Homo sapiens: one gene and its partner. The protein of the gene in region 1 purifies or fractionates together with the protein of each later gene. This does not show direct contact. Each region holds a gene or a part of one and is shown on either strand. Other genes may lie near its edges.

What was found.
Region 2: the proteins of PKLR (region 1) and ARHGEF6 purify together in Homo sapiens (affinity purification with western blotting, with the first as the bait; one study listed by BioGRID). This does not show direct contact.

The regions. Positions count from the first base shown.
Region 1 is NC_000001.11:155,288,793-155,291,438, forward strand, and holds the end of PKLR (pyruvate kinase PKLR), read right to left. Parts: intron 1,887-2,646; coding exon 1,780-1,886; 3' UTR 501-1,779; downstream 1-500. UniProt on the Homo sapiens protein: Pyruvate kinase that catalyzes the conversion of phosphoenolpyruvate to pyruvate with the synthesis of ATP, and which plays a key role in glycolysis.
Region 2 is NC_000023.11:136,746,433-136,749,932, forward strand, and holds part of ARHGEF6 (rho guanine nucleotide exchange factor 6), read right to left. Parts: intron 1,161-3,500; coding exon 1,076-1,160; intron 1-1,075. UniProt on the Homo sapiens protein: Acts as a RAC1 guanine nucleotide exchange factor (GEF).

The DNA of each region.
Region 1 (2,646 bases):
CTGCCAGGTGCAGGCCCAGGCCCATGACCCCACCTTTACTAAGCACAAGTACTTGCCACTGCCATCACTGCCAAGTAACTAGATGTCTCTGTTTCCCTGCCAATGATCCTGCAGGTTCTGCCCGGTCTGGTTATCTTCCTGTTCCTGTAGCATAGCCAGGCACTGCCAGTCACCTGTGCCCCCATTGCTGTCAGCAGATGTCTTGGGTCCTGAGTGTGGGTATCCACTTTTACCCGCTCACTGCCACCTGTGGACACTCTGTGTCTACCCTCTGAGTGGGAACATACTTCTAAGTTCCCTGCAGTCTCTGTCCTGTGGTAGACCATCTTTTTGTAAACTGCGAGCTTCCTCTTCCCTGTACCCTCTGCCCCAGTCGTGACCCCCTAAAAGTTAAGGGGTAGTTGGCACCTCCTTATTAATATGCCAGCCTAGATCCCCCCCGGTGGAGGGGCAAATGGCTGAATCCTTGTGTGATATTTTTTTCTTCGCTTGTTTATTTATTCATTTATTTAATTGTATTTATTCATTTACTAACTTTATGTGTTACCAATTAATTTTGTTTACCCATTCCTTTATCCATCCCTCCCCTCCTTTTCAGGTAAGGAGACAGGAGGAGTAGGAGGAGGCAGGGCCTCTCCATGCCAGCCTCTGTGGTCCTTGCCCAAACCCATCAGCGCAATACTTGAACCTTCTCCCAGGTAGGGGCAGGAGGAGCCACATGAGAGAGGGAGAAGGACCGCGTTTACCTTTAGAGTTTTGTTTTGTTTTTTCCTTCTGAGTTTGCTGTTGGTGCAGGAATAAGGGAAAGGCCCAAGGTATCCAAGCCTGGGGAAGGGCAGGCCAGCCAGCACCTCTGCCTTCTCAGGGACAAGAGTAGTCCTTTACCACCCTCACTCTGCCTGTCCCCTCTCCTACTCTACAGCATTAAAGACTGTGGGACCAGGACCCTAAGTCTCCTTTCCTTCTGGGTGGGGAGTTCTGGGGTTCTTGGTGTGTGGGAGAAGTTTTATAATTGCTTCCAAACAGCTGGGTTTAAATATAAAATAGACACACTCATTTTTGGCTCTTGGTTTGTGTGTGGGAACAACATGAGTGGGAAGGAATTTCTGGGTGCAGAAGGAAGCAGCCGGGGATTTGACCAAGCAGGGTATCAGGCAGGCATGAGAGCAGCCAGGACAGTGGTCTACAAGCCCAGCACGGAGGTTGTGAAGACAGTGACAAAATCAGCTGCCCAGCCCTCACTTCTCCCCAGCATCCATCCCACCCAGTTTTCCCAAAAGCGTGGACTTTCATGTAACTGTTAGTCACCATGAAGGGGTAGCCTGCCCTGGCACGAGATGCCCAGATTATCATGAGGGCTACATATGAGAATGGGAGACTGTGGACAAGATTGCCCTGTCTCCCCTCTCCCCCACCCCAAGGGATGGGATGCCTGGGGTTATGGAATTAACCAGCCAAACTGGGATTAAAGACTCAAGGCATCTTAGGGCCTGCTGAGCAGATTGGATGCAGGGAATGTACAATTGGTGCTGTTGGGTGGCCAGTGCATAATTGGACACAGACTTTCAGGACCTGTGTGAAATGGAGATGGGGAAGGGGCAACCTCGAAGGGGCTAGATGACAGTTATAGTCTCAGATAGGCCTCAGGTAGGGAGGGTCAGGAATAGAGAAGAGAGGACTTAAAGGTGGGGCTTTGGAGGGGTGTGGGCTGGAGAACGTAGACTGGGGAGGAAGGGATGGGGTACAAGGGTAGGCTGGGCCAGAGGAGGGAGGGGCGTCTCAGGATATGCTTAGCACCCGCATGATGTTGGTGTAGCCGGAGCCAGGTCGCCAGCCTGTCACCACAATCACCAGGTCTCCAACACGGAGGAAGCCACGGAGCTTTCCTGGGGGAGGGAAAGAAAACAAATCATTGGACAGGTGTGGTGGCTCACACCTGTAATCCCATCACTTTGGGAAGCCAAGGCAGGAGGATCACCTGAGGTCAGGAGTTTGAGACCAGCCTGGCCAACATGGTGAAACCTTGTCTCTACTGAAAATACAAAAATTAGCTGGGTGTGGTGGCGCATGCCTGTAATCCCAGCTACTAGGGAGGCTGAGGCAGGAGAATCGCTTGAACTCAGGAGGTAGAGGTTGCAGTGAGCCGAGATCACACCACTGCACTCCAGCCTGGGGACAGAGCAAGACTCCATCTCAAAATAATAATAATAATAATAATAATAATAATAATAATAATAATAATAATAATAAAAGAAGAAAAGAAAGAAAATTAGTCATTGAGGGACCAGGCCAGCCCTGTAACGAGAACCAGCCACCACCTTTCACCACATCAAGGCCATCCTGTAGGGAATGAGGCAGTGAAGTATGTCCCACGGGTGGCATGCAGGGAATGTGACCACTGCAGTATATTAAAGGTGTAAGAGATGCCAGCACGGTGGCTGACGCCTGTAATCCCAGCACTCTGGGAGTCCGAGGCGGGCGGATCACGTGGTCAAGACATTGAGACCATCCTGGCCAACATGGTGAAACCCTGTCTCTACTAAAAATACAAAAATTATCCAGGCGTGGTGGCGCATGCCTGTAGTCCCAGCTACTCAGGAGGCTGAGGTGGGAGAATCACTTGAACCCAGGAGGCAGAGATTGCAG
Region 2 (3,500 bases), on another chromosome or scaffold:
AGCTCTTTTGACAAAAACTATAATTACTCGATAGCTTCCTAGATGCTCTAACCTATTTGGCACTTGATTATATTGTCTGCTCTTGTCCTCTAATTGTTTCACGTGGGTAAGTTGAGTCTCCTTAAATAGACAGTAATTTTCTCAAAGGCAGGGACCATAGCTTTGACATTTTTTGTAGCACCTGGCGATGCTGGGCACACAGCCTCTTGACTCTACAACAGTTTGAGCAGCAAGCCTCGTGCTTGGGCATAAGGGCTCTGTAGTCATTCAGATGTGGGTCTGAATCCCAACTCAGCGACTAACTTTCTAGTTGGGCAACTGTTGGCCTGACTTTCCTTATCTGTAATATGGACCTAATAATAATAATACCTACCCCCAGTGTTGTTTCAAGGATTGGATGAGATCACCTGTGGCTCTTATGACAGCCTAGATCCAGGGCAAGAGCTCAAAGCATTTTAAGTATGATTATTACTATTCAGCTGTTGGTAAAATATACCAGGGAAGGAGTGAAGCTACATTCTAAGTGTATCATCATTTTCTTCACATTTACTAGCATTTATATTTAATACCTCTAGTGTGGTAGGTGTTAAACATTTAAATAAAAGATATTATTTTCACTCCCTATGACCCCAAGATTTCATTTTTGGTGCAAGGCTACTGAGGGGTTCCTTTACATGGACAAAGGCATACATAAAACAATGAGAAAAATATGTCTCTAGTGGGGAAAGGGAAGTGACGGCTGTATTTTGTAAACTCTATGAAAAAGGGAACTGGTCTTTCCTTTTTCTTCTCTGTTTTGTTATACTCAGTTGGTGATTCAGAGCTTTGAATGGAATAGTTTCTTAGTTCTTATCATTATATTAAGGGCATTAGAATAACATCTATGATAGGTATATTTTAAATCCTAAGCCATGAAAAATTCAAGCATTTGACATTTGTTGGGGTGTATTTGGGGGAGCAAGGGGAAAATTTGCATCACGAGAACAATCCTGGCCAGAGTTGGCTCCTAGGGTAATCACAAACACATGGATTCAAAAATGTCACCCAGAACATATAAATCACAAGCCCGGCTTACCTTCTGTTGCTTTGTTGACAGCTAAAAGAGTACTCAGTACCTTGGAGAAATTGACCCCTGAATAAAGGTCATCAGGATCAAATATCTATGAGAAAGGAAAATTGAAACCGTAAGACACTACAAGTATTCAACTCAACAAACAAAACTATCAAAAGGCCACTTCCTCCAGCTCTCCGGAAAAAAAAAAAAAAAAAAAAAGTGTAGAAGCCAAGACACAAACCTCCATATACCTTTGGGAGAAATGAGAGCAGCAGTTGAGCCGCCTAATGACATGTGGCAGGCCATCAGTGAGTCAGAGCAAAGCAGTAATGGGAAATGAGAGCCAAGCTGAGAAGGCAGCGCCCACCAGGAAATAAACAGTGCATACTCAGACCCACTCTTCTGGCCTGAATGTATCAATAGTTTCAGCCCAGTTACAGGAAGCTCATATGCATGGGTTACAATCAATGCCCATCACCTACATAATGTCCTCGACAGTCCATAAATAAGGAGGTGGAGCCTTTTTGACATGGTTGCATCTGTACAGTTTATTAGCTGTGCCTAGTTGAGTCACTGTCAAAAGTGCCTTTTTCTCTGCTCTCCTTCCTCCCAACTGCCACCCGCTGCATCCCAACTGCCTAGGATCCCAATTCCATGTTGCCCAAACTTTCTGCCCAGGTCTGCCTTTTGCTCCCAGCTTCAGTTCTGTTTCTGCTGTTTGACCTTGCCCCTCTCAGCTCATCATGAATTCAAGTATTTGCCTGCCTGGGCCTATGGGCTCTTCCTGGCTTTAGATGACTTTCCCAAATATGACCTCTGGCCTGTCTAATACTACTCAACTCTTGGCAAAAAACACATTAAGGAAATACATTTCACTTTACCAGTCAACTGTCAATCTGATATGCTATTGTCCCCAGTGAAGATACCAATCAGATGTTGTTTTCAATACAATTTACCTGTTACCTTTGAAATGTAGTCAGTGTGTTAAAATATATTGAGTCTCAAATATGTATATTTGAAATTAGAAGTGTTCTCATGCACAGGTACAATCTATTAATTTGCCAGCCAACAATGTAAGTATGCATATCTGAAGGTAACCAGATGCCCACCTTCTGGATGGAAATGCCCCTTCTAAAAACATTTTGTTCCAGGATGTCTAGAAGTCTCTTAAAGAAAACAGATTGCATCATTTTTTCCCCAAATGTGGTGATGGAAATAAAATGTACCTTTTCATATGGGACATGATTGGTAATGGGCATAGGATTTTAAAGGGTCTGTCTTCCCATTAGGTAGAGCCATTTGTTCCATTTTTAAGCTGCATATTTTCTGGGAACCATATCAAGACAAATTTCTATCTTTTTTGTACATGTTCTTGAAAACCTATAATCTGTTTTTAGAGTGAAAATATATAATATCAATTTTTCACGTTTTGGGGGGTCAATAAAGATACATGCAAATGCAAACCTACACAAGTCTGCCTATTCTAGGATTCACTGCTTTATTCATTTAATCAATGAATATTTTGCATTCAAAGTTAAAATGACCAAAAAGCCCAGATGCATCTAAAAATGAGACATTAATATATTTCTGGTAAAAGAGTAATGCTAATATTACTAAAGAGTTAAACAACAACACATTCCAAATATATTTCTGAATGCTACAATATAAAATTCAAACTTTTCCAGAAATACATTGACAAGAGTTTTGTTTTAGTTTGTCAAAGCCTGGGTGAACAAGAGGCAATAGACTAGAGAGAGTGTCTAGTATCTCCGGGGATTTCAGACTTATTGAGTCTCCCTTAGAACTGATCAACTGGGAAAATGTTAATGACATGTATGCCAAAATAGTAGCAAAGCAAAAAAAATCACTTGTTTTTAGCCCATCAGTCCTAATGGGAGTGTGCATGTGTGTGTGCATGTGGATACATGTTTTGGGTGGGTGTGGTAGAGATGAGTAGATCTAAAATAATAAGCAGAAGTTAAATATTAGCAGAATAAGGCATGAGAGCAAAAGTTGTGATAAAAAACCTCTCCCTCTGGTTTTAGTTGTTCCTTATCCAGGGTTATTAAATGCCTATACATGGCAACACTGGTATTATTCACTTGTACAAGTACTTGACTGATTTTGAAAATAAATAAACTAATCAGAAAATGAAATGTGCATCAAGAAGAGTCATTGCATCTGCTTGAGGGAAGTTTCCTGAACTGTACTCGGTTCTCTTTTGAGAAAACCCCAATATACTCAAGTTTATCCATGGACACTGTTCTTGCTGCAAGCCTATTCTGAGGCACTAGAAACTACAGAGGAAGGAGTTGGAAGAAGCCTCTGGGAACTGCTAGAGAAAGCAACGCCTAAGCATTATTATTTCAGAGTAGCTGGAGAATCAGATACAACCACAAACACCCTTCACCACACTATACCTTCTAAGTCCTAAATTGAATGATAT